Linked DNA regions of Homo sapiens: regions 2, 3 and 4 are each linked to region 1. Evidence: fine-mapped expression QTL. A gene starts in region 1. Each other region holds a variant in brackets. All regions are shown on one strand. Distances are between the middles of the regions.

Region 1 (8,143 bases):
ATGGGTGACAGAGTGAGAACCTGCCTCCAAAAAATTAATCAGTTAGCTAAAAAAAGAAATCTTTCTTGTAGGAGATAGCTTAAAAAATAACAGTAAAATCTAATAGTGTGCCCCAAACTTACAATCTGCAGATTCAACACAATCACAATCAGAATCCCAGCAGCCCTTTTTGCAGAAACTGACAAGCTGGTCCTAAAATTCATATGGAAATGCAAAGCATTCAGAACAGCCAAAATAATCTTGCAAAAGAAGAACAAAGTTGAGGAACACTTCCTAATTTCAAAATTTATTATGAAACTAAAGTAATCAGGATAGTGTGGTACTGGAATGGACGGAAATATATAATAGATCAATGGAATAGAGTTGAGAGTCCAGAAATAAACTCTTAGATTTATAGTTAATCAATGAGGGTGCCAACTATTCGCTGAGAGAAAGAATAGTCTTCAATAAACTGTGCTGGGACAACATGCAAAATAATGAAACTGAACCCCTACCTCACACCATATACAAAAATTAACTGAGAAAAGATCATCGACATAAATGCAAGAGCTAAAACTAAAAAACTCTTAGAAGAAAACATAGGAGTAAATCCTCGTGACATTGGATAAGGCAATGGTTTATTAGATATAACACCAGAAGTAAAGGGAGCAAAAGAATAAATTGGATCTCATCAAAATCACAAATTTCCGTAACCAGAATATGTAAAGAACTCTTACTAGAAAATGATGAAGACAACTCAATTTTTAAAAATGAGCCAAGGATTTGAATAGTCATTTCAACAAAAATATAAAAATGGCTAATAAACACATGAAAAGATGCCCAACATCATTAGTCATTAGGGAACTGCATATCAAAACCACAATGAGATACCACTTTACCCCCAATAGGATGGCTACAGTAAAAGACAAACAATATTAAATGTCAAGAAGGATATGGAGGCTCAACAAGGTGGCTCCACCTGTAATCCCAGCACTTTGGGAGGCCGATGTGGGTGGATGGCTTGAGGCCAGGAGTTTAAGACCATCCTGGCCAACATGGTGAAACCCTGTCTCTACTAAAAATACAAAAACTGGCCAGAGGTGGTGGCAGGTGCCTGTAATCCCAGCTACTCGGCTGGCTAAGGCAGGAGAATCGCTTGAACCCAGGAGGAGGAGGCTGTAGTAAGCCGAGATCACATCACTGCACTCCAGCCTGGGTGGTGACAGAGAGAGACTGTCTCAGCAAAAAAAAAAAAAAAAAAAAAAAAGAAGAAGAAGGCCAGGCGCAGTGGCTCATGCCTGTAATCCCAGCACTTTGGGAGGCCGAGGTGGGCAGATCACCTTGAGGTCAGGAGTTTGAAACAGCCTGACCAACATGGAGAAACCCCATCTCTACTAAAAACACAATACAAAGTTAGCCGGGCATGGTGGTGCATGCCTATAATCCCAGCTACTCGGGAGGCTGAGGCAGGAGAATCACTTGAACCTTGGAGGCGGATGTTGCAGTGAGCCGAGGTCATGCCACTGCACTCCAGCCTGGGCAACAAAAGCGAAACCCCATCTCAAAAACAACAACAACAAAAAAAAAAAAACGAAGAAGAACATTGGAGAAACTGGAACCCTCATATATTTACTAATGGGAATGTAAAATGGTGCAGCTGCTATGGGAAACTGTTTGGCTATACCTCAAAAGTAAAACCTAGAATTAACATAAAACCCAGGAATTCCTAGGCCCACACCCAAAGAGAACTGAAAACATATTCACAAAATAAACTGTACATTAATGTTCACAGCAGCATTATGTAAAATAGCCAAGACTTGGAAACAAACCCCAATGTGCGTCAAATGATGAATGGGTAAACCAAATTTGGTATATCCATACAATGGAATATTATTCAGCCATAAAGAGTTATCAAGTACTGAATGAAAGCACTACAACGTGAATGAACCCTGAAAACATGCTAAAGCCAAATACAAAAGGCTACATAAGATTTTATATAAAATGTTCAGAATAGACAAATCCATAGACAAAGAGTAGATTAGTGGTTGCCAGGGACTGGGGGTAGGGAGGACTGGGGAGTGACTGCTAATGATACAGATGTCTTTGGGGATGATGAAAAGGTTCTAAAATCAATTGTGGTGTTGGCTGTACAATCTTGTAAATATGCTAAAAACCACTGAATCATACATTTTAAAATGGTGAATATTATTATACATGCATTATCCCAATAAGCCTGTTTTTTTGTTTGCTTTTAGACAGTTTCGCTCTTGTTGCCCAGGCTGAAGTGCAGTGGCACGATCTGGGCTCACTGCAACCTCTGCCTCCCGGGTTCAAGCAATTCTCCCTAACTCAGCCTCCGGAGTAGCTGGGATTACAGGCGCCCGCCACCACGCCCGGCTAATTTTTTGTATTTTTAGTAGAGACGGGGGTTTCATCATGTTGGCCAGGCTGGTCTCGAACTCCTGACCACAGGTGATCCACCCGCCTTGGCCTCCCAAAGTGCAGGGATTACAGGAGTGAGCCACTGTGCCCAGCCAATAAATCTGTTTTTAAAAACATCTTATACGTGGCTTCTGGCCACCTGTCTATTGAAATCGTAAAATAACACTCTTGACTTCTGCCCTTTATTTCATTTCTGAGGGCTGGTGTCACCAACCTCTGTGCTTTTCTAACCCATGCTTTGGTAAAAGCTCCAGAAAGTCTTGCCTCCAAAACGGTCTTTCATCCAGCACTGGTTATACTTTAGAGAGTTGGCTCAAGTAGGCAGATAAATATGAGAGCTCTCAGACTGGGTAATACTCATCTCAAGAAGCTCCCCATACACACTGACTTGGTATTCCCACTTAAAAATTATGTAGACAATTTTTTCAGGCATAAATTATATAATCTGCAAATTTTTATTTAAATGTTGACTACACGCACATATATATCCAGGTTGTTTTTTCCAACTAGACCGACCATTAAATCTCCAGAAAAGGCCCAAGTCTAAAGTCTGCGCCCTAATACTGCCCCAGTGCCCTGCACACAGTGTCCCATGTGGTCCTTTGTTTCAAGGGCTGATGATACCCTGTAACAACATGAATGTGGGAATTACATTCCACTTCCATCACTTATTTAGCTTTGTGACTTTAGGCAAGTTGCTTAAATTGTGTGCCTCAGTTTACTCATTCCTAAAATAGGGCTAGCAATACCTGCCCGTTGATATTTAACAACAACAAAAAAAAGTAATGTTGGTGACACGCTGAATATAGCATCTAGGACACAGACATTTGAGGCAGTCACTGTCTGTATATACTGTTTGGAGTCAAATCTTTTCTTCCCATATATTTGCATTTTGACTATTATTTGCTCTCTCAATCAGCAGCTTCCTCATCTGCAAAATTCTGCGCCAAAAGATCGCTGAGAGGATTTTAAAAAAGAAAAAAAAAAAGACTAGAACTCCTACCACACAGCAGGGTTTTGCTCAAACAAAAACAAAAGCAAAAACGACCCTTTCTTTTCATCTCCCCGGCTAAGGCGATTTCTTCAGCATCAACCTACAGCCCCCTCGTGCACCCAGCTGAAACGCCATCAATATCGCCCAACAGCTTCCAGACCTATCTGTGAACAAACAAGTGAGGTCTCCAAGAACGCCAACCGTAACCCCACGTCAGGGAGCCATTTTCCAGTCAAGAAAATGAAAAGGTGTGCAAGAAAGACCTAAGGAATAAAATACCCCTCCCAGCAATCATCGATGCCCCTTCCCACGTCGCTCGGGACCCAGCACAAAGACCGCAGTCAACACCGGCAAAGACTTTTCCTTTCTCACCCCACCCGTCCAGCTAGAGGGGACGTGGCGTGCGCAGCGATACAAGGGGAGGTCTGAGTGGTCGCAGGGCCCAAGACCCGGCGGCGGCGGGGGAGGGCGGAGAAGCCTCGGGGAAGCTCGGCACCAGGCGGTGTCGTTTGAGGGAAGGGTCGAGCCTTACCTTCGCCCGCTTGCGCCGGCTGGTCCGACGCCCCTCCGGAGTCTCTGCTATTCCAGTTTCCATGGGGGTCGCAGACCCAGGCACGACAGTAGGGCCGGCCTGAGGCCCTGCGGACCCCGGCGGTTCCGCCAGGCCCCCGGGGGGCGAGGCCCGCGGAGGCTCTTTCTTGCGGGGTGTGCGCTCCCCCACCGCCCCCGGCCCGACCTCGGCTGGGCCCGACAGGCCCGCGGGCTGCGCGGCCACCTCAGACCCGTTCTCGGAGCCGCCTGCTGTCCCAGGGCCAGCCTCCGTCCCGGTTGCTGCCGCTGCAGCCGCCGCCGCCGCGGCTGCCGCCTTCTTCCCAGATAACATCTCGGGCCGCCGGGCCGCCGACGGCCGTAGGGGCCGCTCGCTCTGTCGCTCCGTGGGTCCGAAAAGCCTTGCCTCGCCTCGCTTCACGCTGCCCGCGCGCCGCCAACCGCCGTCGCGTACGCACGCGCCAAGCGCGCTCCCGCCGCGCCGGGACAAAAAGGGTCGGAGACACCCACGAGCCCCGCCCCTCCCCCGCAGCCATAGAGCGGCGTTCTCGCGGCTAGAGTGGCACCGCAGCAAAGAACGTGTAGCTTGCCTAGAGCGTCTCCCCGGCGTTTGGAGTGGGACCTGGCACAGTCCGTGGTCTTAGGGCTTCTGGGCCAGACTAAACCTCCGAAGGTGACCATTTCCTCCAGGGACTTTCGGGTTTGCATGCGTGCGTTCGTTCATTCACTCACCCAATTATTCGTTAATTCAACCAGTATTTATTAATGCTTGCCTACTACGTAACAAGGGTTACATTATGAAGTTCTAGCTTTCAAAGAACTTACAGTCTAATGGGGGAAAACACTGAAATATGTTGGTAGAGCGTCTTACTTATTCATAATTGCCCTGCTTGGACTGGGCAAAAAACTTGGAGAGCACAGCAGTTTCGATGGTAGTAAAATGGAGACAAGTTACGAAATCCAGGTTTGAGTCCAGACGGAATTGCTCTTGTCTCCAAGCCTTTGTTCATGCTTTTCCTTCTGGCTGGACCCCAACCTCATTCGCACTCCATGTCTTGCGCTTCTCCCATCCCCCATGTCCCCCATCCCCCATGTCCCCCATCCTTCATGTCCCCCATCCCCATCCACATAACACCTCTTTCTACTCCAGGTTAATTCTTTCTAATAATGATAGTAGCGGTTTATTCTTTTAATTTTTCGAGGAATCCCTTGCTAACCCAAAACTGGAACAGGTCGTGTACTTTTAGCATGCGTGTACTTATTACACAAACAATTGTCTTTTTAATAGTCTGTCTCTTCGAAGTGAAATTGTCAAAAAATTATTCCATTTACATGAAGTTCAAGAACTGGTAAAACTAATCTCCAGTAATAGGCTCCAATCAGCCCTTGCCTGAGATGGGGGTCGGGGGTTGACTGCAAAAGAACAAGAAAGAACTTGCTGGGGGTGATGGAAATGTTTTATATCTTGATTAGGGTGATGGTTACATAGGTGTATATATTTGTCAAAACTCTATGAACTATCCATGTAAAACAGGTATGTTTTATGTAACTGTAGTACTTCAGTAAAGTTGTTTTTTGTAAAAAACTAAGCAAACAGACAAAAAGGCAATCAAATGTAGAAAGGAAAAAAAGTAAAAGCTATGCAAGAAAGAAAATGTATCCGAGTGGCGTGGCACGCACTTGTAGTACCAGCTGCTCGAGAGACTGAGGTGGGAGAATCACTTGAGCCTAGGAGTTCATTCAAGTCCAGCCTGAGCAACATAGTGAAACTGCGTTTCTAAAAAAAAAGAGAAAAGAAAAAGAAAGAAAATATAATCATAGTACAACATATGGCTCAGCTGTGAACTGTATTAACATGACCATAAAAACGTAAGCAGTGAATATTGTTTTATTTATTTTTTCTGTTCTTTTGTTTGTTTGTTTCTTCTTTTTTTTTTTGAGACAGAGTCTTGCTCTGTTGCCCAGGCTGGAGTGCAGGGGTGCAATCTTGACTCAATGCAACCTCTGCCTCCCAAGTTCAAGCGATTCTCCTGCCTCAGCCTCCCCAGTAGCTGGGATTACAGGCGTGTGCCACCATGCCTGGCTAATTTTTGTATTTTTAGTAGAAACAGGGTTTCGCCATGTTGGCTAGGCTTGTCTCCAACTCCTGACCTCAAGTGATCCTCCCACCTCGGCCTCCCAAAGTGCAGGGATTACAGGTGTGAGCCACCGCGCCCCGCCGAGCAGTGAATATTGTTTTAACCAAAGTGATAGAATTACATTAAGAGAATGGAGAAAAAAGAAAGTTTGTGGGGAGAAAGATGAGAAGGTTTTAAGGATTTAGGGAAGTAGGGAGGTTGTTGGGGGAGGTGCTGCTTGGGAGCTAAATTATTTTTCACCATAAAAATATAATACATAATGTTGGCCAGGCGCGGTGGCTCATGCCTGTAATCCCAGCACTTTGGGAGGCCGAGGCGGGCAGATCACGAGGTCAGGAGATCAAGACCGTCGTGGCTAACACGGTGAAACCCCGTCTCTACTAAAAATACAAAAAAACTGGCCGGGCATGGTGGCGGGCGCCTGTAGTCCCAGCTACTCGGAGGCCGAGGCAGGAGAATGGCGTGAACCCAGGAGGCGGAGGTAGCAGTGAGCCGAGATCGCGCCGCTGCACTCCAGCCTGGGCGACAGAGCGAGACTCCGTCTCAAAAAAAGTATATATATATATATATATATATATATATATATATATATATATATATATATATATATATATAAAATACATAATGTCAAAATTGAGAAATCAAAAAATAATATAAGCATACTATTTAGAAATATCAAGGTAAATACAGAAGAAACAGCTAAAAAAGTTGGAATTGGTTGTCTCTAAGGCTTGGAACTTGACGGTGGAAAGAGGTGAGGCAGTGGATTGGAGCTTGTTTTAAATCCTGTAGTTCTATCTGACTTGTTTGCACATTTAATAGTTTGATAAAACTTGAAATTAGATGTTAAAAACATACATACCCTTTGACCAAGTAATTCTACTTTCAGGAAAGCATTCTAGGGAAAGATTCAGTATGTGTACAGATTTAACTTCAACACTGTGTATCTCAGGTTATACGTAATGACGATAAAGGAGAACTAACCTAAAAACCCAACAAAGGCCAGGCACAGTGACTTGCATCTGTAATGCCAGCATTTTGGGAAGCCGAGGTGGAAGGATTGCTTGAGCCCAGGAGTTTAAGGCTACAGTGAGCTATGGTCACGCCACTGCACTCCAGCCTGGGCAACAGAGCAAGACCCTGTCTCTAAAACAATAAAAATTTTAAAAAGCCCCAACAAGTGGTAACCAATTTGATACAATCATACACCGCATAACAATGTTTCCATCAACAACAGACTGCATATGAGATAGTGTTCCCATAAAATTATATAACACATTTTTACCATACCTTTTCTACCTTTTCTATGTTTAGACAGAATTGCTACAGTATTCAGTACAGTAACATGCCATACAGGTTTGTAGCCTATTAACAATACACTATACCATATAGCCTAGGTGTGTAGTAGGCTATACCATTTAGGTTTGTGTTAAGTATGCTCTATGATGTTCACACAACAATGAAATTGCCTAATGGCGCTTTTCTCAGAATGTATCCCATCGTTCAGTGAGGCATGGTCCTAGCAAGGCATGATTCTATATTGGAATATCACAGCCACTAAAACTGATATTTTTACATAAAGAATTCCTGGCCGGGTGTGGTGGCTCATGCCTGTAATCCCAGCACTTTGGGTGGCCGAGGCGGGTGGATCACCTGAGTTCAGGAATAGGAGACCAGCCTGGCCAACAATGGTGAAACCCCGTCTCTACTAAAAATACAAAAATTAGCCAGATGTGGTGGCACTTACCCGTTTTTTCCCCAGAAATAACTAATTCATATCAGATGTTTTTATTGTGATAAAATACACATAACATAAAATTTATGATCCTAACCATTTTGAGTATACTGTTTAGTAGTGTTAGATGCATTCACATTGTTGCATAAACAATCTCCAGAATTATTTTCATCTTGCAAAATTCTGTATACATTAAACAATGACTACATTTGCCCCTCCTTCCAGACCCTGGCAGCCACCATTCTACTCTTTGCCTCTATGAATTTGACTATTGTAGATAGCTCATGTAAGTGGAATCATACGGTA
Region 2 (8,143 bases), 89 kb after region 1:
GTTCAGCAATTTGTTCGAGGTCACACAGCTGGAAGCTCTTTGATTCTTCCAGAATCTACTACTCAAGTAGCCATGGACAAGAGGTTCACCTGCCCTGCCCCATCCTTCCAAGAGCATCTGCAATATTCTCCCTCCCTTTCCTGTGACCTGACAGTCTTTCTTTTATGAATGCAGATTTTTTTTTTTTTTTTTTTTGAGATGGAGTTTTACTCTTGTTGCCCAGGCTGGAATGCAATAGCATGATCTCGGCTCACTGCAACCTCTGCCTCCCAGGTTTAAGTTCAACCTCCTGCCGCAGCCTCTCGAGTAGCTGGGATTACAGGTGCATGCCACCACGCACAGCTAATTTTTTGTATTTTTAGTAGAGACAGGGTTTCACCATGTTGGCCAGGCTTGACTTGAACTCCTGACCTCAGGTGATCCACCTGCCTCGGCCTCCCAAAGTGCTGAGATTACAGGCATGAGCCACCACTCCCAGTCTGAATGCAGAAATTCTAAGACTTAGAGCTGGAAGTGTCCTTAGCAAACATCTCATCACTAGTGAAACGGATTCTAGTGGTTTTTGAATATTTTTTTCTTTTTCCTGCCAAGACATAGATGTGGTAGGTTTTTGAATATTTTTAAGCTATGTAATTTTTGTTTCAAACAACATGTAAATCTGATTTTTTGTTTCTGCTTTTTTTTGAGACAAGGCCTTACTCTGTTGCTGAGGTTGGAGTGCACTGGTGCACAGCTCACTGCAGCCTCATGACCTCCTGGGCTCAAACAGTCCTCCCGCCTCAGCCTCCCAAGTAGCTGGGACCATAGACATGTGCCACCACACCCTGCTATTTTTTCTTTTCTTTTCTTTTCTTTTTTTTTGTAGAGACAGTCTCACTATGTTGCCCAGCTGGTCTCAGACTCCTGAGCTTAAGCGATCCTCCCACTGGGCGTATCCCAGCTACTTGAGAGGCTGAGGCAGGAGAATTGCTTGAACCTGGGAGGTGGCAGTTGTAGTGAGTCGAGATCGCGCCACTGCTTCAACCTGGGTGACAGAGTGAGACTCCGTCTCAAAAAAAAAAACAAAAAAAAAAAAAAGAAGAAAAAAAAAAGACAGAAAAGAAAAGGAGCCCTTCAGAAAACCTGGGGGCCCTGCAGGGGAAGAGGAAAAGCAAGGGGTTAGGATTCCTTTCCCCACCTGGGGAGATTAAGACTCCGTGGAGGGAAGACCCAAGCCAAGGACTCTGGCTGTGGCCTCCAGCTGGGAGGTCAGGCTTCAGCCCCTTCCCACCTGGGGGAGGAAGAGAGATGGTGAAGGGGAAGACCCCAGGGCCTCGGGCAGGGAGGAAGCCTGGATCAACTCACTCCTAAGGGTGCGCAGGATTTATCAGCTATTTCTCCAGGAGTGGTAGGATTGAAAAAGAACAGATGAAAGAAGGCAGTGCTAAAAACCCAAGATATGACCCTTTAATGGTGCAATTCCAGACATTGGGGATAAGTGAGGGGCCCCTGGCACCCAGTGAATCACACCATTTAAGGACACTGGGGAAAGAAGGAAGGCAGCTGTTAGATAATTGTCATAGCAATCCCGAGGGTGGGGATTAGAAACCCCATTTTGCTCAGAGAAGTGAGCTGACTTGCCAAGGTCACAAGTTTATCAGTGGGATCCCAACACAGGTCTCTAGGTCTCTATAACTCTCTGTACCAATCCTTGTGGGATTTAGGAGTGTGAACTGAAGATGGGTTTATTGGGTCACCTGAGTGTGTGCTGGCTGGGCTGGGCACCTGTCATTCTCCCTTGGGCCCAGGGGCTCCTTCATGGCCCCTGAGGCTCACTCCAGAGTTAGTGACCCTGTAAAGCTGCGAAGAAGGATTCAGCCTCAGGCTGCGTTTGCCAGAAATTTGGTTTCTAAGAGGGAGGAGGAGGAAGAAGAAATTCTGTGTATCGCACTGAAGAGCTCTAGGGATGCAGAGAAGACATGGGGAGAGAAGATGCTGGAATTTTCTGAGAAGGGAGTTTGAAAATCTAGGAAACAGTTGAAAGAACTCAGCGTAAGAGCAAAATGTACCTGGGTGTTGCCCCAACCAGGCCACATTCAGCTTGACCTTCAGCGCTTGAGATACCCCATCTCTGTGAGCCTCAGTTTCCACCATTGTGAAATGGGAGAACAGCCCGGTGTTGCATGAGAGATAGTTCACACTGGATATTGAGAGCCAACTGGTACATTTCCAGGAATTTTGGGAGCCAGTTGTTAATGTCATCTTTAAAAATTAAATTCTAGGCCGGGTGCGGTGGCTCATGCCTGTAATCCCAGCACTTTGGGAGGCCGAGGGGGGTGGATCACGAGGTCAGGAGTTCAAGACCAGCCTGGCCAACATGGTGAAACCCCGTCTCTACTAAAAATACAAAAATTAGCTGGGAAGGTGACACGTGCCTGTAATCCCAGCTACTAGGGAGGCTGAGGCAGGAGAATTGCTTGAACGGGGCCCCGGGAGGCGGAGGTAGCAGTGAGCGAGATTGCACCACTGTACTCCAGCCTGGGCTACAGGTGAGACTCTGTCTCAAAATAAATAAATAAGTAAATAAAAATTAAATTCTGTAATAGAAATCACTTATGTCACTGAGGAATGAATGAAGTTCCAACATAATCTTTATTGTTTCACTTTTTTTTTGAGACAGGGTCTTAGCCTGTCGCCCAGGCTGGAGTGCAGTGGCACGATCATGGCTCCTTGCAGCCTTGACCTGGGCTCACATGATCCTCCCACCTCAGTCTCCTGAGTAGCTGGGATTACAGGCACATGTCACCATGCCCAGTTAATTAAAAAAAATGTTTTTTTTTTTTTTTTTTTTTTTTTTGGTAGAGATAGGGTCCCACTATGTTTCCCAGGCTGGTCTCAAACTCCTGGGCTCAAGCTATCCTCCTGCTTTGGCCTCCCGAAATATTGAGACTACAGGCATGAGCCATTGCACCTGGCCTATTTCACTTTTTATGTTTTTTTTTTTTTTTTTTTGAGACAGAGTCTTGCTCTGTTGCCAGGCTATAGTGCAGTGACACGATCTCAGCTCACTGCAACCTCCGCTTCCTGGGTTCAAGCAATTCTTCTGCCTCAGCCTCTCGAGTAGCTGGGACTACAGGCGCGCGCCATCATGCCCGGCTAATTTTTGTATTTTCAGTAGAGACAGGGTTTCACCATGTTGGCCAGGATGGTCTCGATCTCTTGATCTCGTGATCTGTCTGCCTTGGCCTCCCAAAGTGCTGGGATTACAGGCGTGAGCCACCACACCCGGCCTCACTTTTTATCTTACCTTCTTAACTTAAACAGGAATGTCAACCAGCATCCAGTAACTACAGTCGGAAGTTGGTTATTAAACCTGAAATAGTCCACCCTGGTAGTAACCATCTAGGTGGTCATAACATTCAGTGATGAAATATGATGGAGGTGTCATGGTTGGCGGGGTCCATTGGCTGACCCTCCCCAGACTGCCTCCAACAAACTCGCCATCTGAAGACAAACAGCACCCTGGCTAGGTAACTCCAACTGCAAGACCAGTCTCCTAGTTCTTCACCCCAGTGACTGGCTGCTCCCGAGTTCTTCATGTAGAGAAATTCTGAGGCCAGTAGCCTGGAGCTGGCATACATTATTATTACTATTATTTCTCATTTTTAAAAATTTCTGTAGAGACAGGGTTTCACCACATTGCCCAGGCCGGTCTTGAACTCCTGGCCTCAAGTGATGCTCCTGCCTTGGCCTCCCGAAGTGCTGGGATTACAGGTGTAAGCCACCGGGCCCAACCAGTATTATTAATTAATAAGTCAGAAGTGGGGCCTTTGAAAGGGGTACCCAGGGCAGCTGATAGGGGAATAATCTTTGATTCGACCTTCTCTGCTTCCTGCCCCATCACTGTATCTCTAGCTCCTCACACATTGGCCTGGCTCCCAGTCAGGGTAGGGGCGGGGGCAGGGAGTCAAATACCCACCGCTCCCCACCTACCCCAGGATATTATAAAATACTTCTCTCTGGGGCTCAGCTCCGGCCATTGCCTGCCCCATCCCCCAGGGGGCAGAACGGCTCCATGGAAAAAAGGCCAAACTCAGCCTCCATCCCTGCCCCGCCTCCCATCCCCCACTGTCAGTGCAGGGCTGCTTCTAGGGGGTCACAGGGAGTAGCGCTTACAGAGCCTT[T/C]ACTATGTGCCAGGCTGTCTGCTGGGCACTGTGGCCACCCATTAGCCCTATTTAGCCCTCCCTACATAGTGTGGGCCTATTTAGCCCTCACGAAGGCCTTGCAAGGTGGAGGGTTAGCACTCCCAGCTTGACTCTCAGGCCATCAGGGAGACTTTCCACCCCCCTGCCCTTCCTGCCTCCTCCTCCTACCTGAGCCTCCCGAGTAGCTGGGACTACAGGTGCACACCACCACACCTGGCTAATTTTTTGTCTTGGTGTTTTTTTTTTTTGTTTGTTTTTTTGGTAGAGATGAGGTTTTGCCATGTTGCCCAGGCTGGTCTTGAACTCCTGGGCTCAAATGATCTGCCCCCCTCGGTCTCCCAAAGTGCTGAGATTACAGGTGTGAGTCACCACGCCTGGCTGGGTCTGAATTCTTGGTGCTTTTAATAACCATCTAGGATGATGCTGCTGACACCCTGCCCCTGGGTTCCTTGAGCTCCTTGCTTGCCATCTATCCTACCTCCTGTGTCCTGTGGTCATTCCCTTGACTTAACAACAGCAGCCTCTCAATCATCTTAATTTTAAGGACCCCGATTTCCAACTACTACCTCTCATATTCCTAAGTCACTTCCTCCAGCTTCCTCTTTCCAACAATCTCCCCCTGCACCCCAATAACAAATGCACTGGTCCCACACCTTTGCCTTGTCCTCATCCGTCATGCTGCCTTGCGCTCTGTACCTACCTTTGGCCCCAAGGTGTATTGCTATTGTCACTCATTTTTTTTTTTTTTTGAGACAGAGTTTCACTCTGTAACCCAGGCTGGAGTGTAGTGGCATGATCTTGGCTCACTGCAACCTCCGCCTCCCAGGTTCAAGCGATTCTCCTGCCTCAGCCTCCCAAGTAGCTGGGATTACAGGTGCACGCCACCACGCCTGGCTAATTTTTGTATTTTTAGTAGAGATGGGGTTTCGCCGTGTTGGCCAGGCCGGTCTTGAACTCCTGACCTCAGGTGATCCGCCTGCCTCGGCCTCCTAAAGGGCAGGGATTACAGCGTGAGCCCGCGCCCGGCCGCTATTGTCACCCTCGCATTTACTCTTATCTCCTTGGTTCCGCTCTGGCTTTGCCAGACTCATCTGGCTAAATCCCAGACTCCAGATTTACTCCTCTGCCTCCAGACTCATATATTCAATTGCCTGCTTGATGTTTAAGAGGCATCTCTAACTTATGTCTAAAATGGAATTCTCCATCTTCCCCTAAACCGGCTCCTCCTGCAGTCTGCCTCATTTTAGTTAGTGGCAGCTCCATGTTTCCTGTTGCTCAGGTCAGACACTTTGGAGGACTTTTTGGTCCCGTTTCTCTCACACCCACATCCAATCCATCAGCAAATCCTGCTGGCTTGACCTTCATACTGTGCCTGGAACCCATCGCTTTTCACCACTTCTGCTCCTGCTGCCCTGTTCCAAGCCACTCTCCTCTCCCTCTAGGGTTATTACCGTTATATCCTAACTGTCTCCCTGCTTCTCCCCTGGCTCCCCGTGATGGTTGGTTTTCTGTGTCATCTTGGCTAAGCTGTAGAACCCAATAATTCAAACACTAATCCAGGTGTTGCTGTGAAGGTATTTGTAGATGTAGCTCACATCTACAGTCAGTGGACTTTAAGTAAAGGAGATTATCCTCAGTAATTTGGGTGGGCCTCATCCAATCAGCAAAAGGCGCCTTAAGAACAAAATTGAGGTTTCCCTAAGGAAGGAGAAATTCTGCCTCTGTACTGCAGCATCAGCTCCTGCCTGAGAGATTCCAGCCTGCTGGTCCACCCAACGGATTCTGGATGTGCTAGCTGATTTGGGTAAGTCAATTCCTTGAAATAAATCTTTTAATGTATATCGTACCGGTTTTGTTTCTCTGGAGAATCCTGACTGATACATCCCCCCACCATCATTCTGCAAGGCAATCAGAGCAATCCTTTTAAAAGTCAGATCACGGCACTGGTGCTCTCAGACACTCCACAAGCTTTCATCTCATGCGGAGAAAAGTGCAAGTTCCCCTCATGGTCCACAGAGGACCCCAGCTCTCCATACTCTCCCCCTTATTCTTTCTGCTCCAGGCATCCTGGCCTCTTTGCGGATCCTTGAGCACTCCAGGCATCCTCTGGCCTCAGGGCCTTTGCTCCTGCTGTCCCCTCTGTCTGGAAAGCACTTCCCCGGTGAGCCACTCGCTTGCTCCCTCACCCTTTCAGCCATTTCTTTTTTTTTTTTTTTTTTTTTGAGACAGAGTCTTGCTCTGTTGCCCAGGCTGGAGTGCAGTGGTGCTATCTCAGCTCACTGCAACCTCCACCTCCCGGGTTCAGGTGATTCTCCTGCCTCAGTCTCCTCAGTAGCTGGGATCACAGGCATGCCTACCACATCCAGCTAATTTTTCTACTTTTAATAGAGATGGGATTTCGTCAAGTTGGCTAGGCTGGTCTCAAACACTTGGCCTCAAGTGATCCACCCGCCTTGGCCGCCCAAAGTGCTAGGATTACAGGTGCAAGCCACCATACCTGGCCCCCTTCAGTCATTTCTTTGTTCATATGTCATCTTCTCAATGAGACCTTCCCTGACCATCCTGTTTTTGTAAACTGAGGGATAATGTACAAAAATGTGTCTGGTGCACTAATCTTTGTGCCTGTTTTTTTTTTCTTTTTTACGTATGCCTGTACCTGTGCAACCACCAACTAGGTCAAGAAGTAGAACATTTCCAGCCCCTCTGTAAGGTTCCACTCCACACTTCCCAGAAGTAACTATTCTTATGAATTCTATCACCATTGATGAACTCTTCTTGATCTTCATACAAACGGGATCTTAGATTATGTGCTCTTCTGTGTCCATTCTGTCTATTTTAAAATTGCAATCCCGCTCAAGAACTCCCCAAAGCCTTTCCTGCTAATTTTTTCGTGGCCTCCTCCCCACCTAATATATTGTGTTTGATTGTTTAAGTGCCTATCTGCCCCTAGTAGGACATGAGCTCTGTGTGTGCAAGCGTTTTTGTCTGTTTTGCTCACTGCTCTATTTCCAGTACCTGGTGAACTGACCATCGCTTATGGGCAGCCAATAAATATTTGCTCAGAAAATAATGAATTAGGCTGGGTGTGGTGGCTCATGCTTGTAATCCCAGCACTTTGGGGGGCCGAGGTAGGCAGATCACTTGGGGTCAGGAGTTCAAGACCAGCCTGGCCAACACGGTGAAACCCCATCTTTACTAAAAAACAAAAAAACAAAGATTAGCCGGGTGTGGTGGTGTGTGCCTGTAATCCTAGCTACTTGGGAGGTTAAGGCATGAGAATCGTTTGAACCTGAGAAGCAGAAGTTGTAGTGAGCCGAGATTGCACCACTGCACTCCAGCCTTGGCAACAGAGGAGACTCCGTCTAAAAAATTAAAAAAATGAATTAATCTCCATTTTCTAGATGATGACATTGAGGCTTAGAGAAGTGAAGTGACTTCCCTGTGTCACACAGCATTAATGATGGAGACAGGATTTGAACTGTCATATACCTGAACCCAAAGACTGCTCTTAACCCGCTGTTTAGTCCATGGAACCCTCCCTGAATGTCTCCATGCATGAGAGTCTGTGCACATGTGTTCATGTGTCATCGTGGGTAGGAAGGTGAATGAGCACAAGGGTATTGATTTATTTGGAAATATTTTCTAAGTGCCTACTGTGTGTCAGCCACTGTGCCGGCACTGGGGAACTTCTTGGTTAGCAAAACAGACACATCTGTTTACTTGTGGCTGTATGTCTTTGTGTGTACGTGTGTTTACTGCAGTGGATGGATACATGCTTGTATGTGTGTGCTTATGTTGGGAGTGCTTGCCCCTCTCTGTTTGCAGGTGTCTTCTGTTGTGTGTGTGAGTGGAACTCTGTGTCCAAGTGTGGAGGGACCTGAGATAGCGGAGTTTTAGAGCAGACCACTGGGTTCGAATCCTGGCTCCTGCCCTTGCTAGCTGTGTAACTGTGGGCAAGT
Region 3 (8,000 bases), 21 kb before region 1:
GCGACTCATGAATTCACCACCAACTAGTAAACCCATATTCAGAGAGCTCCTTCTTCTGGAATCAAGGCCCAGGGAATTACATCATAGTCTTCCAAATTCTGGTCAGGAAGTTTCAACTTTACATGTTGATTCTTGTTGAAAGGCAGTGGAACAAAGTACATAGTATTTCTAATCACTAAATCCTTGCTGTCAGTCTTATTTAATATTAATAGTCTGGATGGGGGAAAATGGATTCCGAGTGTCTTTTACTAACGGCTGCTAGACTGAAAATGGAGCTGACATAGACTCTAGAATCTGGCATTGCAATTCAGCATCAACTTAATATCCGTTTAACTTTCTAATTTTAATGAAAAATTATCTCCTTCTCTTCAAAGCAAGGAGTATAATTAAAAGACTCAGTCTCCAAAGAAGTTTCATTTACTATACACAGTAGACACTAGTACAGTTAAATATGCCAGTGCTTCCTAAATAAAACTAAAGAACACACAATAAGACACTGTGTGTGTGTGTGTGCCAAGTACTGTAGATAAACACACACTTGTGGTAACACAGAGAAAGGCAGGCAAGATCTTGAATCTTCTACTTCATGCTACATAATAAGCTTTGTTAAGAAATTTTCCTCACTGATTAATATGTAGAAGTAACTTCAAGAAAAGAATCAAAGCTTGAAAATTCAATCTGATAAAGAATAGATTGTCTTCTGAACTCTTCCAAAATCTATCATCAAGACAGATGCTATGATGCTCTTAAGCTTCTAGTCACCTGGTACACTATAGGAAAATGAGTGTGATCTTTGGAAGACATAAAATACCACCTCCCAATGATCTAGATAAACTCAGACAAGCTTCATTAAAGTTTATTTTAAAATACGTACCCCAATAAGAAAGCAGATTGATTATTCCACCATTTGAGTTAGAAGGGAACAACAAAGAGAATAAAAAGATACTTAGATATAAGAAATTATTTCTGACAATGATATTAGAATGTGTTGCTAGAAGATACATGCTCTGTTATGAAGGTAGAATAGAATCTCATTCTAAACTTATTTTACTAAGCTCTCGTCTGAAGGGTCCTTTAGGTTCAAGAAGGTTATGCTTCTCAGACAAGGCCCAAGGTATACCTATTTACAGCCCTTGGAAAAAGGCATACAATCATGAAGAGACGATCGGGTTACTAAATCCAATCTGCAAACTTATCTTGAAAATATAGGTCCTACATTTTAAACTCTACTATAAACTTAAAATCAGATATATTCACTCTTAGTAAATTCTGGCTTTATTCATAAAAAATATTTTGTAGAGCCGGGTGCAGTGGCTCAGGCCTGTAATCCCATCACTTTGGGAGGCTGAGGCAGGCAGATCACTTGAGGTCAGGAGTTCAAGACCAGCCTAGCCAACTTGGTGAAACCTTATTTCTACTAAAAACACAAAAGTTAGCCAGGTGTGGTGGTGCTCGCCTGTAATCCCAGCTACTCGGGAGGCTGAGGCAGGAGAATCACTTGAACCTGGGGGGCAGAGGCTGCAGTGAGTCAAGATCACACCATCGCACTCCAGCCTGGGCGACAGAGCAAGACTCCATCTCAAAATAATAATAATAGGCCGGGCGCGGTGGCTCACGCCTGTAATCCCAGCACTTTGGGAGGCCGAGGCGGGCGGATCACGAGGTCAGGAGATCGAGACCATCCCGGCTAAAACGGTGAAACCCCGTCTCTACTAAAAATACAAAAAATTAGCCGGGAGTAGTGGCGGGCGCCTGTAGTCCCAGCTACTTCGGAGGCTGAGGCAGGAGAATGGCGTGAACCCGGGAGGCGGAGCTTGCAGTGAGCCGAGATCCCGCCACTGCACTCCAGCCTGGGCGACAGAGCGAGACTCCGTCTCAAAAAAAAAAAAAAAAAAAAAAAAAAAAAATAATATATTTCATAGATTTTTAAAAAATGTTGCCATTGTTTCGTTTGGTTCCAAATAAAACCAAGCTGGATCAGAAAACTGAATTTTATTTGGGCAAGAAAGGGAGCAGGGAGGGACTCAGAACAATGAAACAAATAGTTTCCAAGAATCACACTTAAGATTAGGAATAATACAGCTGTTATCGTTCAAATTATGTTTCTGACTTGGCAAAAATAAAAGTGACAGTCTCTTGTCATGAAGGTATCTCACCACTAAAAACTTAGATAAAAACAGCAAAAAACCGACAAAACAAAAAACACACACTTTGAAGCTAGCCTAAGCCTGAATTACTTTATCTTTCCTATTCCTCTCATTTCCCTTCTTTTCCAACTATAATACATGTCATACAATAAACTCACTAATTTAAGCTACAGGTAGCTCTTGACTGATTTTTGTGTGTGAATCAATGGTGCTTTGATTCACAAAAAAAGATGGATTTCTTACCCCTGACTTGCGTACTCAATAGGTTAACCAGGACAAAAGGGCAACGAGGCAGTCTTTTTTGTCTTCTGGTTTTGAAGAAAGGAATTAAAAAACCTCTTAAAAAGATTTTTTTTAATTTAAAAAAATGCAGGAAAATGTAGAAAATATTCAATACCCTGCAAAGATTTTTAAAAGGGATCCCATAACAACAAAATGTCAAAAAAGAAATGAAACTCCAGGCTGGGCACAGTGGCTCACGCCTGTAATCCCAGCACTTTGGGAGGCCGAGGTGGGCGGATCACGAGGTCAGGAGTTCAAGACCAGCCTGACCAACATGGTGAAACGCTGTCTCTACTAAAAATACAAAAATTAGCCAGGCGCTATGGTATGCACCTGTAATCCCAGCTACTCAGGAGGCTGAGGCAGGAGAATCGCTTGAACTCGGGAGGTGGAGGTTGCAGTGAGCCGAGATTGCACCACTGCACTCCAGCCTGGGCAACACAGCAAGACTCGGTCTCCAAAAAAAAAAAAAAAAAAAAAAAAGCAAGAAAAGAAACTCAAAAGTATTATTTAAGCAGAGGAGTAGAAAGAAACCAAGCAGAAGGTACCACATAAGAAATGATGGAAAACAAAATTTAAAAGTGCTTAAAATTAAATTAAGAAACAAGTTATTTATCTCTTGATAATGGTTTAACTTGCTTGGAAATAAAGAATGAAGTTATTATTTTCACTCCAATCATACTTGAGAGTATTTTGAAGATGCCTACTTCTCCAAAGACAACTGAAAGATCATCTTTACTAGCAGTATATTATAGACCAATTCTTGAACATTTTCTTAAAAACAGCACATACACAACACTGCTTGCAGCTAACTTTTCATCCAAGTAGTCTCTGATTATGATATATATAAAATCCCTTATTCATCTGCTCTTTGGGTCTTTCCAGCCTAGGACTCTGTTTCTGATAGTGGCTCAGGACACATTAACAGCAGGCAAGTAGCGCTGTTAGCTTTCCATGAGTGCAAATTCAAAACAGAAAATGAAAATATTCAAAAGCAACTTTGTAATATCACCTTGATTTTGGCACCACTACACAAGAAACTCCCTTTTGTTTTTATCCCAAACCACCAAACCTACAAAATAGTCCTCAAGCTTGAAGCAGAGACTCTTTTTAATTTTTTAATTATTTTTAGAGACAAGGTCTTGCTCTGTCGCCCAGGGTGGAGTACAGTGGTGCAATCACAGTTCACTGTAACCTTGAACTCCTGAGCTCAAGGGATCCTCTTGCCTCAGCCTCCTGAGTAGCTAGGACTACAGGCATGTACCACCATACCTGGCTAATTTTTTTTTTTTTTTTGTAGAGACGAGTTCTCGATATGTTGCCCAGGCTGTTTTTGAACTCCTAGCCTCCCACTTCAGCCTCTCAAAGCAACAGGATTATGAGCGTGAGCCACCACAATCGGCCTAAAGTAGAGACTCTTCATACAGCTTATTTGTACACAGCTACTCCAAATTGAAAATGAAGATCTTTTTGATTTATCTTACATAACAGCCTTTCAGTTGTCTTCTAGACCTTCAGATCTAAGAG[T/C]CCTTCTTGAAGCGTGAAGTGTTGTAGTTATAATCACATTACTGAATGTTTTCTCATCTGAATTCAAATACTCAAGAGATCACTCTTCCAACATCTTAAAAGGAAGTCTATGTTGACTTTCAAATGCTTTTATCTGGCAAACAAACAAGGAGGTGAAAATCACTGGTTGGTTGTTTCCAGAAACACAGATTCACATTTTGACTAGTTTCTTGGAATCACATTCAAATTACAAACATTTTAAGAAACTTCTAAATCTAGGAAGCAACGATTTTCCAATAGAAGATAAATTTACCAAAATGGCCAAATTTATGGAATAAAAGTGAAGGCCAACCTACTGATTTCAATTGAATTTAATAAATTAGCAGGTGAAAGAAACATTTCAAAAGTTAAAGCCAACTTGGAATATATGTCTCTACCGTATTAACGCACTAATTGAGTTTCTTATTTAATAATCAGTGTTTACCGTATCTGCCCCAAAACTGCAAAGCACAAATACAAAAGTAGAACAGGTAGACTCTCTGTTTTCAAAAAGCTTATAATCTAGTTGAGAAAAGATGAAAAATACCTACAAGGAAACTTTTGTTGTTAAGAAACGAGAAGCTGACACAGTCTTGGAGAATCAGGGAAGCTTTCAGAACAATTCCCGAGAGATCTGGATAGACTGCGAGGCAGTGAAACCACGACTATGGTCCAGATCATTTACAAAGATAAAGAGAAAAGCACAGACATGGTATGTGCAGAGGACTGCTCGGTACCTACTTTCAGAAGGAGATGGTCTGAAAAAGCAGTGGGAGATCAAGTGGATTGGTAAAATGATCCCTTTCCAGTACCCAAACCTGAACGTGATTTTAGTAGTAATGAAGGAAAAGTGTGTGATCTTTGGCACAAAGACAACAAAACAAATGCTATTTTAGTTAAACTAATCTGGCCACTTTGTACGAGATGGATTAGAGGGAAAACCTAGATAAAGGAGATCCAATTCAAAGGCTATTGAAATAATTTACATACAAGTTGAAATTCACTAGAAAAAGGTGACAGTAAAAATGGGTAAGGCCTAAAAAATGAAAAAGACTGCACAGTAAGATGCATGACTTTACAACAGACTTGGTAAAAGGGATAAAGAACTTTCAGGATGACTCTAGGGTTTTAAGTTCAGAAGACTAGTAATGCTACAAACAAAATGGGAAATTTGGGAGACTGGCTAATACAATTAAATGGAAATGTTCTAAAGATGGTTGGAAATTAAACAATAGAACTCAGAAGTAAGAATGGGGCTAAAAGACTTCAAAATAGCATGGAAGTAATAATAGGCTCAGATAATTTGAAGCAGTCATAAATGCATGATTAATCTCATGAACATAAGGAAAGTCACAGTTTCAAAAAGGAATTGACAGTGGCTCACACCTGTAATCCCAGCACTTTGGGAGAGACCAAGTCAGGAGGATCACTTACAACAAGGAGTTCAAGACCAGCCTGAGCAACAGTCAAAATGAAATTATGAGTTCCAACTAGAATAGCAATCCCTGGGTTACAGTATCATGTAAAATACTGAAGTAAAACAGCCTTCTTAAGGTTTAGAAAAAAAGAAAAATTGTTTTGCTTGAAGCAGGAGCTTGCCTGGAACTTCCACTGAACTGCTGAAAGAACAATAACACCACAGATATGTGCTTGAAGACTTCCACTGGGTAGTAGCAAGGATCTTATCAAAAGAAAGTAAAAGGCCCTACAAGCTAGGGAGAAATGCAAAGCTTTAGAAGCCAATGGAAAGAATTTACTTTTTCACATATTATTTCCCTCCACATTCCATAGTAGAAATTTTCCTGATCCTTACTTATTTTGCTGCAGTCTTGGTTTGTGTTCACTTTTCAAAATGTTCCAGAGAAAGCTTACAATTCAGATGTTATGTGTCCAACTACCAAGCTTAAGGTGTGTCTGGTTAATAACAAAGCTTACAAAACATTTCTTATAACTCAACAGCCGATGCAAGAATTTCAATTATATTATTCTCTTAAGGAAAGAAAAAAAAACTATGTTAGAAAGTCCCAAAGTCTGTCATTCTCATGATTTAACTTAAAAGATTATTATCAAGATTTAAGTTTTACACACACACACACACACACACACACACACACACACAAACAGTTCCAGATGCTTAAAAAGTTATCTATTTCATAATCGACTCATTACTGAAAATGGCCCACCACAAACACTTTCCCAAAGTAACACAGTATGTGTGTCTGTCTGGTCTAAAGCTGCCCTGATTTTTTTCCTAAATAAAACACCAATCCACCCTATTCTTTGTTCAATCAACTCTGCTTAATAAATACAAGATGTTTATACATAAAGGTGGGTTTCGCATTTTCTCATTTGATTCTCATAACAAGTCTCATTTTGTAGACGAGAAAATCCTTACAAATCTTGTTCTTCTATTACAACATGATCAGACCCAATAAATGATGGCAACAAAAAGAATTCAAATAAATTATAAAAATAAAGGTGATCAGCTAAACAAATTACTATTTTGCCTTAATAAAAAGTACAACAAATCAATGAAATGACATCATTAAGAAAAGCAGGTCAATCTCTCAAAGACCAAACATAAACTTGTAGCATCTGATTCAAGGGTTCTTATCGACCAAAAGCAGTAAATAGTTAAAAATCAAGGATCTAAAACTGCTTCATCCTTTCATGTTTAACACAAAATTTCCAAAACCCAATTTTAGGGAGAAACATTATTTAAAAACAGCTTCTGAGAGAGCTATTATACAACATGGTGACTATTGTTAATCACAATACATTGTATTCTTGAAAAATACCAAGAAAGTGGGTAAGTGTTCTCACCACAAAAATGATAACCATGTGAGGTAATGCATGTTTATCAGCTAAATTTGGTCATTCTGCAATGTATTTATACTTCAAAACATCACGCTGTACATGATAAATACAATCTTATTTATCAATTAAAAAAATAAAAACTTCTGAGTTCTCACCATACTTTCTATACATTTCTATTGTAGTTTCTTCATTGTAGCTACTTACTAACATCTGTAACCCTAAACTGAATTGCACTTTTTTTTTTTTTTTTTTTGAGACAGGGTCTCACTCTATCACCCAGGCTGGAGTGCAGTGGTACGATCCCAGCTCACTGCAACCTCTGCCTCTCCGGTTCAAGTGATTCTGGTACCTCAGCCTCCTGAGTAGCTGAGATTACAGACATAAGCCACCACTCCCGGCTAATTTGTGTGTGTGTGTGTGTGTGTGTATATATATTTTTTTTAGTGGAGATGGGGTTTCACCATGTTGGCTGGGCTGGTCTCAAACTCCTGGCCTCAAGTGATCCCCTTGCCTCGGCCTCCCTAAGTGCTGGGATTACAGGCATGCACCACACCAGGCCACTGGACTACAAATTCTTTGCAGGTGGATGTACTCTTTCTCTTTGAACCCTTAGAATCCAGCACTGTGACTGTGACAAAATAATTATCATCGTACAATAATATTTGTAGAATAAAGTCAATGAGGAACTACTACATTTGGGGGAATCTTATTTTTTTGTAGAAAATGCCTATTTTTTAAAAAATTTGCCCTCCATACTACCAATTCTCTACTCTTCACCCTTCCTACCTCTATATGCCTCTAGAATTTTTATATTGATATCACACTTAAGAGTTTTTTGCTTTCCATTATGCATTTATGTCTACACTTGTGTCTCATACTAGGCTATAAATTATCTGAGAGTGGGGACCGTGTGTTGTATAGCGTATTTATCTTGATCCATTCATAATGCCTCAAAATATAAGAACATAAGAATTCTGTTGAATTACCTTTTCAGCTTGTCACTTTCTTCCCTCAGCCCTCCAGTAAGGTATTTTGGAGCATAGGTCCAAATCAGAACACCGAAATGTGTTCCAAAAAGGCTGGAGTGGTGAGGGGGCGGGGGAGGGGGGGGGCGTGGCAAGAAAACTAACCCTATGCCTATTTTCTGAATGTATGCATCATACTTCATAAAATGAGAATTCAAATGATTTCAGGCATTTATTTTACACT
Region 4 (8,143 bases), 89 kb before region 1:
CTCCTCTGGGAAAGGAGGTGGTTGGACTCTGTGATCTGTAAGGATCCTTCAGTCTCTGCTTCTAGGCAGACAGACACGTACACACATACTACCACCACTATCACCACCAACAGTAACAGAAACAATAAGTGCCAGAAGAGATGCTTGAGGGAAGTGATGAGGATGGATCTGTCATGGTGGAAAGCTCTCTGAAGCAGCATCACTAAGGAATTTGAGGATGTTTACAGTCATCCTCTTGTTTTGGGGACAGAGGGCAAGTACGCTGAGGAAGCAAGAAGTAAATGGCATTCAGAAGAAAGAAATCAGTTACTGCTTACTTCTACCCCTTAGAAATATGAGAGAACGTAGACAGTTGAAAACAAATCAGGATTAGCTGGAGTTCCTCTTTCCCTTTGGCAGTGCATTCTGTCTTGTTTTGAAGAGAAAAGCCCCTGGGCCTTAGTAACATGTCAGCAAATTTGGCAGTAGGTGGTAGGTGCTGGGACAGTAGATTTTAGCAGGGGCGCTGCTATCACTGTTAGGGCTGCAGAGACCTTAGGGGAGATAGACCAGATTTATGTGACCATTTCTTAGAGTTCAGAATTTTTATGTAGGAGAGGTTTTAGGCTATGCAGAAGAAGATGAGTGTGTGTGTGGGGGGGCGGTGTTTGTGTGTGGGTGTTGTGTGTGTAAGGTGGGTGGGGAGGGGGAAAGAGACAGGTGGTGATGGGGTAGGACGGAAAGTCTGTGGAACTGTCCTAAAACTATTTGAATACCAATCACACTTACTTTAACTTCCATTGATTATTTTTTAAAAGCAGAGGGTGGAGAGCTAAAGCTTCCCCCACATCCACCTAAGCTATCTCTTGGGTGCCGCCTTGGTATAGATCGTTTTTAAAATTATTTTTAAATATAGAGCGTCACTCTGTCATCTAAGCTGGAGTGCAGTAGGACAACTGTGGCTCACAGCAGCCTCAAACTTCTGGGCTCCAGGTGATCCTCCCGTCTCAGTCTCCCAAGTAGCTAGGACTATAGGTGTGCATCACCATGCCCAGCTAATTAAAATTTTTTTTTTTTTGTAGAGATGGGGGCCTTGCTTTGTTGTTGTCCAGGCTGTTCTTGAACTCCTGGGTTCAAGCAATCCTCCTGCCTTGGCCTCCCAAAGTGCTGGGATTATAGGCATGAGCCACTGTGCCTGGCCTAGATCCTTTTTTATACTTATTTTCTAGCTGTTTTTATTATCAGTAACTTTTTTTTTTTTTTTTTTTTTGAGACAGCGTCTCACTGTGTCGCCCAGGCTGGAGTGCAGTGGCGCGATCTGGGCTCACCACAAACTCCGCCTCTTGGTTTGAAGAGGTTCTCTTGCCTCAGCCTCCTGAGTAGCTGGGATTATAGGCACATGTCACCATGCCCAGCTAATTTTTGTATTTTTAGTAGAGATGGGGTTTCACCATATTGGCCAGGGTTGTCTTGAACTCCTGACCTCAGGTGATCTGCCCGCCTTGGCCGCCCAAAGTGCTGGGATTACAGGCGTGAGTCACCGTGCCTGGCCGATACTATCAGTAACTCTTCTCTTTGGGAGGCCAAGGTGTGAAGATTGCTTGAGGTCACGAGTTTCAGACCAGCCTGGGTGACATAGTGTGACCCCATCACTACAAAAAAAAATTCTTTTCAAATTTTATTCTCTTGAGGCTTGAGTTACTACTGTTCCCCTCATCTTTTAAGCTGTTTTTAAAAAACTCTCATTATTTGTCCATTGTAATTCTAGCCGCCTTGCTCTCTGGGAAGATAGAGGCAGGGATGGGTGTGTGTGTGTGTGTGTGTGTGTGTGTGTATGTGTGCGCGTTCATGCATGCGCGCAGGTGCAGGTATGTGTGCATGTGTGCATGTTTTGGTGGAGGTGTGGAAGTTGGATTAAAGGGACCAATAGTCTTGGAAGGCAGTCACAAGGTGGCTTGCAGGGATGTGTAAGGGAGGCAGTTGTGATGAAAGAAGGGAGGATAGTTTGTAAGATCATGTACAAAAGCTTTAGGTTTACCACTAGCTTAGAAGCTACCTTTCCATTTTCCTCAAGAGTAAGATAACACAAGAAGTTTGACCCAGATCTTCCATCTGTAGTAGCTCTTCTCTAATTTTAGGGGTAAGATTCAATGGGATGGTAGGCTTTTCAACTCTCCTGTAGAAGCCTGCTTGTTTCAAAACTGGAGGGTAAGTTTGCAGAAAGAAAAGCTCTATTTTTAGTTTTAATTGATATTGGGTGGTTCAGGGCTCTTTTGAGGACCGAGTCTAGAGGGCAACAAAATGAGAGCCAGCATGGTGAAGGGACTTTCAAAGTCAGACAGACTTGAGTTTAAACTCTGTCATTTAATAACAAGCTGTAAGACCTTGGACAAGTCACTTCTTGAAACTTAAATTCTTTATCTGTAAAGTAGAGGTAACATTATCTTCTTATTGTCTTATATAAAACATAAAGCATAGTGCTCAGGGTTGGTAAATACTCCGCAGATGTTTTTTTCCTATCTTCTAGAACATCTTATTTTTAGTAGAATCCTTGCTTTTCTGCTAAATAATTGTGTGACTCACCCTTTCTAAGTTTTAGTTTCCTTCTGTAAAACAAGGACATTTAACTGAAGGTTGAGTATCCCCTTATCCGAAATCCCTGGGACCAGAAGTGTTTTAGATTTCAGATTTTTAAAAAAAATATTTGCATGTATACAGTGACATGTCTTGGGATAAGACCCAAGTCTAAACATGAAATTCGTTTATGTTTCCTATACACCTTATACATATAGCCTGAAGGTAATTTTATTTTTCCCCAGGGGACATTGAATAAACCTGAGTATTGTGTGCCTGTATTTTGACTGCGACCTATCAGATGAGATCAGGTATGGAATTTTCCACTTGTGGAGTCATGTGGGCACTCAAAACATTTCAGATTTTGGAGCATTTTGAATTTGGGATTTTCAGATCAGGGATGCTCAACCTGTAGCTGATTTCTGAGATGCTTCCTAGCTGTAAGATGTCATGTACATTTTTAGACTGTTGAGGAATGTTCGGGTGTTTTAATTTAAGCAAAGACAGTGGGTTCTACCCTAGGACCATATCATCTTATAGGAAAGGGGAAGTCTCCTACAGCCAAATTCTTTCTTGACTTTCCTGAGAGAGACATAGCCAGCTTAGCCAGGTTCCTTTAGTGTCAGGATCTAGATGCAGATCTTACCTTGGCCCCTTGCTGACAGTGAATTGTATGTGAAAGTCTTTGGGACAGCCCTCTGGGTCACCTCAGTCTTGGTATGATTCATGCATTACCTATCTCTTCCATTCTGTTTATATTCTATCCAGGTCAAGAGACAACTGCCTTTGAAAGAGAGTGAGTGACTGTTTCCAAAACAGCAAGCATAGGGAGAGCCGCCGGAAGTATTGACGGAAAGCTTGAATTACCTACATGGTAAGTATGTTGTACAGTGAAACCTGGGTGTACCAATAGAATTGGGTGGTTTCTGAAGCCACTATAATTTTGCCACTACTGGAAGTGGGGAGGAAAGTCAGTATTTGTGATGGCCTATTATGAACCAAATACTATGCTGAGTACTTAACCAACCAACCTGATGAGGGTGAAAAATCCTTGCATGAAGTTAGCAACCGTAAGAATTAGGCCACCCTTAAGAAGTAGCTACCATTTATTGAATATTTACTCTATGTCGGGCGCAGTCCTGTTGGACATGTTATCGCCCTACCAACCCTGTGAGGTAAGTACTGTTGTCATCACCACAAGGAAACAAGCTTAAAGAGGTTAAATAACTCTTCCAAGTTCACACAAGTAGTAGAACTAGGTTTCAAACCTGCATTATTTTCTTTCCTTTTTTTCTGAGACTGGGTTTCGCTCCCATTGCCCAGGCTGGAGGGCGGTGGCGTGATCATGGCTCACTGCAGCCTTGACTTCCTGGGCTCAGGTGATCCTCCCACCTCAGCCTCCCTAGTAACTGGGACTACAGGTGTGCACCACCATGCCCAGCTAATTTTTTTGTAGAGACTGGGTCTCTGTATTGTCCAGGCTGGTCTCAAACTGCTGGGCTAAAGCAGTCCTCCTGCCTTAGTCTCCCAAAGTGCTGGGATTACAGGCATGAGCCACCACCCTAGTGG[G/A]TTATTTTCATTACACTATAATGTTTCCCTTTTAAGAAAGTTACTTTTTGGTTGAGGCTGTGACTGATTTAACCTTGGAAAAGCAAAGCAAAATACAAAACCTTTTGATCAACAATTAGGTTCTTTTCCTAGCCATTTATGGATTTTATGTGCCAATATTTTATTGGTTGGTGTTGGCTAAGGCAGAGGAGAGCACTAATGAAATAGAAGAGATAGAAGTGAGAACTTGAACGGTCAGTGGCCAAGAGACCTGGTGGTCTTGGTTGCTCCTGATAGCTGGATGATAGTTAGAGAAAGCTTCCCTAGGAAAGTAGAGCAATAGGGTAGCTCAGAATGAGTGGGAAATGGGTTCTCGTCATAGCAGTGACTGGGCATAGGAAAGGAATCTTAACAAAGCCTCTTGCTCTCATGTCAACCCCTCTGAGGAAATAGGTGTAGTTAGGGATAATACAGAACTCTTCTCGAAGGAGTGGAAAAATTCAAGGCAAACTCTTGCCCTGTATTTTTTTATTTTTTGCAAGGCGTAGTCTTGCTCTGTTGCCGAGGCTGGAGTGCACTGGTGCGATCTTGGCTCACTGCCTCTGCAAACCTCCTCCTCCTGGGCTCAAGCGATTCTCCTGTCTCAGCCTCCCGAGTAGCTGGGATTACAGGTGTGTGCCACCACGCCTGGGCTAATTTTTGTATTTTTTGTAGAGACAGGGTTTCACCATGTTGGCCAGGCTGGTCTTGAACTCCTGACCTCAGGTGATTTGCCCACCTTGGCCTCCCAGAGTGCTGGGATTATAAGTGTGAGCCACTGCACCCAGCCTACACATACCTATTACACATAAAATATTTTGCTATATACTGGGGCTAATGTTCTGATGACAAAAAATGGCCACTTACTACACGCTTTAGTTATCGGAACTAAGTATACTGCATTAAACAAAATAGAAAAAGTCCTTTCTCTCAAGGATTATATTCTAATGGGTGGAAACAGATAAAAATGAATAATTAGATATAAATAAATAAACAGGTGAGTAGACAAATAACATCCACTAGATAGTACATGCTAAGAAGACAAAAAAGCAGCGTAAGGTGATAGTGGTGGGGAGCTGAGGGATTGCTCCTTTATGTACAGCAATCAAGGAAGGCCTCTGATGAGGTGATATTTTAAGCTAAGATCTAAAAGAAGTGAGGAGTCCAGCTAGGGAGATATCTGGGGGAAAAGCATCCTAGGCAGAGGGAACAGCAGGTATAAAATCTCTGAGGGATGAGTGTAACTGGTCATGTATAAGGACCCATAAGGAGGCCGTGTGGCTGGATTGGAGTAGTAGGGAAGGAGCAGCAGATGAGTGATGGGACCTAGATCATGTAGGGCCTTACAGCCATGTGACACCTTTGGAGTGCATTGTATTCTAAGTGAGGTGCACTAAAGAGCTTAGAGCAGAGGAGTGACTTGATCTGACTGATGTTTTAAAAGGCCTACTCTGGTTGTTGTGGGAGAACAGACTGTGGAGGGTGGGGAAGGATGGACACTGATGGGAGCAGGGAGACAAGTTAGGAAGCTTTTGCAGTAATCAGTAGTCCAGGGCAGGGATGATGGTAGGTTGGACCTGGGTGGTAGTGGTGGCTAACCAGAAAGCAATGGCTTCTAGACATACTTTGAAGGCTCTCAAATTCTAATTCTCCCCATAGACCTGTTTGATTTTTTTTTAATTTAAATTTTTGGTTTTGTTTTTTGAGACAGGGTCTCACTCTGTCACACAGGCTGGAGTATAGTGGTGTGATCTCAGCTCATTGTAGCTTCGACCTCCCAGGCTCAGTTGATCCTCCCACCTTAGCCTCCTGAGAAGCTGGGACTACAGGTGCATGCCACCACTCCCAGCTAAATTTTGTATTTTTTGTAGAGAAAGGGTTTCACCATGTTGCCGAGGCTGGTCTTGAACTCCTGGGCTCAAGCTGTCTGCCTGCCTCAGCCTCCCAAAGTGCGCTAGGATTATAGGCATGAGCCACTGTGCCCATTTGAGAGGTGTTTGATTTATTTGGAGTTAACGTCTGGGTCACAGGGGTTTGAGGATGTCATTGGAAACTTGACAGTGATCTCTGGTAAAATTCTAAAATTGATTGATCAAAGAATGAGAACAGTGATCCCTAGAAGCCAGCTTGTGTTCACTAAGAATAAATCATGCTAGCTGATAACAATTCTTTTTTTTCTTTAAGCCTTGCCATGATTTTATTTAAACGATCGGTACAAGTTCAGTATAAAAATATTAGAGAATAGACATAAGCAAAAACAGAAAAAAAGCACATTATCCAGAGATAATTACCATATAGCAGTTTGATATATATATCAGAGCATTTCATTTTTGGAAAGATTCCTAGGTCGCTGGAGGATTGGAATGTGCTACAAAGGTAATGTGTCTTAAGTGCTAACATTAGGTATTTAATGTTTTCTCATGTGATCCCAAGACAAAAAAAAAAATTTTACCTGGCTTTGGAGCTTCTTGAATAGTTGCACTCAGGAATTGTAATAGATCAGTGTTAATCTATAGGAGGTGTTTTTAATGATTTTGGTTATATTTTGTTTTTGAACATCAATTTGGATGAAGATATAGAAAAGACATGCCTATGAGACTTAAATAGCGAATGTTTGCAGGCTAGACAGTGTAGAGAATATTTAGTCAAGGGATTGAAACTAAGAAGTTGAAATCCAAAAATAATAAATAATAATTTAAGCTGAAACTTACATGACACTTACTATAGACCAGGTACTAGTCTAAGCAATTCTTGCATTAACTTATTTACACATACCATAACCTTATAGGTATTGAAGCATAGAGAATTCAAATGACTTATCCAAGGTCACACAGCTAGTAGCTAATAAAGTCAGGGTTTGAACTTAGGCTGCCTGGCTTCAGAGTTCGTAAACTTTAATCATTGTATCACGTTGCCTGCAAAAGAATTAAGCCCCATATTTCAATTATTAAAAATGAGATTTAACAGTTTATTTGGAAACAAAGCCAGTATGAACCTACAAATTGGTACTGTGGCTATCAGATTCGTTCATGCAATCTTGGACTTCATTATTAGAACTGGGCAGACCAGGTCATCTTTCATCCATCCCACCCTTTTACCCCATTGCTACTGTCCTGGTTCAGGCCCTTATCCCATCTCTTGCCTTGACTATTACAATAGCACCCTAGTTTATCCTGCTAGAATGGCCTTTCAAAAACTGCAGTTCTGATTGTGTTACTCTCTTACTTAATCCCTTTGTCCAATACAGGTTGCAAATTTGCTTCCCATATCCACTTGCAGGCATGTATGTTTTGGAGGGACTATACAGTGGTATTCTTTTTATTTCCTCTTTTTTGAAATCTGAATTCATTGGCTACATTTAAGAGATTATATATAAAAGTAGGGCATAGCCCCTCTTAGCCATAGTCCTTCTAGGCCCTTTAACTCATTTAAATCATTGGCCTGATCTCTTTGGCACCTGCATTTCAGCCTCTGGCATAAAGGCTAAGCATCTTTCCTAGAATGTAGTGCCTAGATCTGAAAATAGTCCCCTTTATGTAAATTTGGCCAGTACAGAATACAATAAAACTATTACATTAATTTATTTACAAAACATTTATAAGGTTCCTACCTTGCCCCTGTCACTGTATTCAGTGCCCAGGACTGAAAAATGAAGATAACACAGTCCCTGCTCTCAGAGCCCAGCAGAGGATGACAGATATTTTAAGTATCATGGATATAGTGATAGAAGCATCTACAGAATTTAGGATGGTGCATTTCTCTTGCGGGGAAGGATGGTTTGAAAAGGCCTCAGAGAACAGATGCATTAAAAGATGTTTACCATTGGGCCAGGCGTGGTGGCTCACACCTGTAATCCCAGCACTTTGGGAGGCCGAGGCTTGTGGATCACTTGAGGTCAGGAGTTCAAGACCAGTGTTGGCAACATAGTGAAACCTGTCTCTACTAAAAATAGAAAAATTAGCTGGGCGTGGTGGCGCACACCTGTAATCCCAGCTACTCGGGA

What was found. PIP is the estimated chance that this variant, and not a neighbour inherited with it, causes the effect. A credible set is the group of variants that fine-mapping cannot tell apart.
Region 2: its variant is the best candidate, but not a certain one, in a credible set for the expression of KDM1A in whole blood (TOPMed, PIP 0.62).
Region 3: its variant is the best candidate, but not a certain one, in a credible set for the expression of KDM1A in nasal epithelium (TOPMed, PIP 0.62).
Region 4: its variant is the best candidate, but not a certain one, in a credible set for the expression of KDM1A in whole blood (TOPMed, PIP 0.58).

What each region holds. Positions count from the first base shown.
Region 1 is chr1:23,015,752-23,023,894 of GRCh38, reverse strand. It overlaps KDM1A (lysine demethylase 1A), which reads right to left and starts at 4,427. Exons shown (of 21, transcript NM_001009999.3): 1 at 3,948-4,427. The coding sequence starts at 4,298. TEX46 (testis expressed 46) reads left to right here and starts at 8,043. Exons shown (of 3, transcript NM_001242521.2): 1 at 8,043-8,123. The coding sequence starts at 8,122. RefSeq lists enhancers at 3,250-3,935, 3,936-4,623 and a silencer at 4,111-4,180.
Region 2 is chr1:22,926,399-22,934,541 of GRCh38, reverse strand. No RefSeq gene overlaps it. Among named protein-coding and RNA genes, the nearest start is that of LACTBL1, 42 kb to the left of the region's middle. RefSeq lists a silencer at 3,980-4,164. The variant T/C (reference allele first, on the strand shown) is at 4,164.
Region 3 is chr1:23,036,348-23,044,347 of GRCh38, reverse strand. All of the region lies in intron 2 of KDM1A (lysine demethylase 1A), which reads right to left. MIR3115 (microRNA 3115) reads right to left here and starts at 43; the gene lies at 1-43. The variant T/C (reference allele first, on the strand shown) is at 3,957.
Region 4 is chr1:23,104,306-23,112,448 of GRCh38, reverse strand. It overlaps LUZP1 (leucine zipper protein 1), which reads left to right. Exons shown (of 4, transcript NM_001395462.2): 2 at 3,322-3,427. Among named protein-coding and RNA genes, the nearest start is that of LUZP1, 60 kb to the left of the region's middle. The variant G/A (reference allele first, on the strand shown) is at 4,123.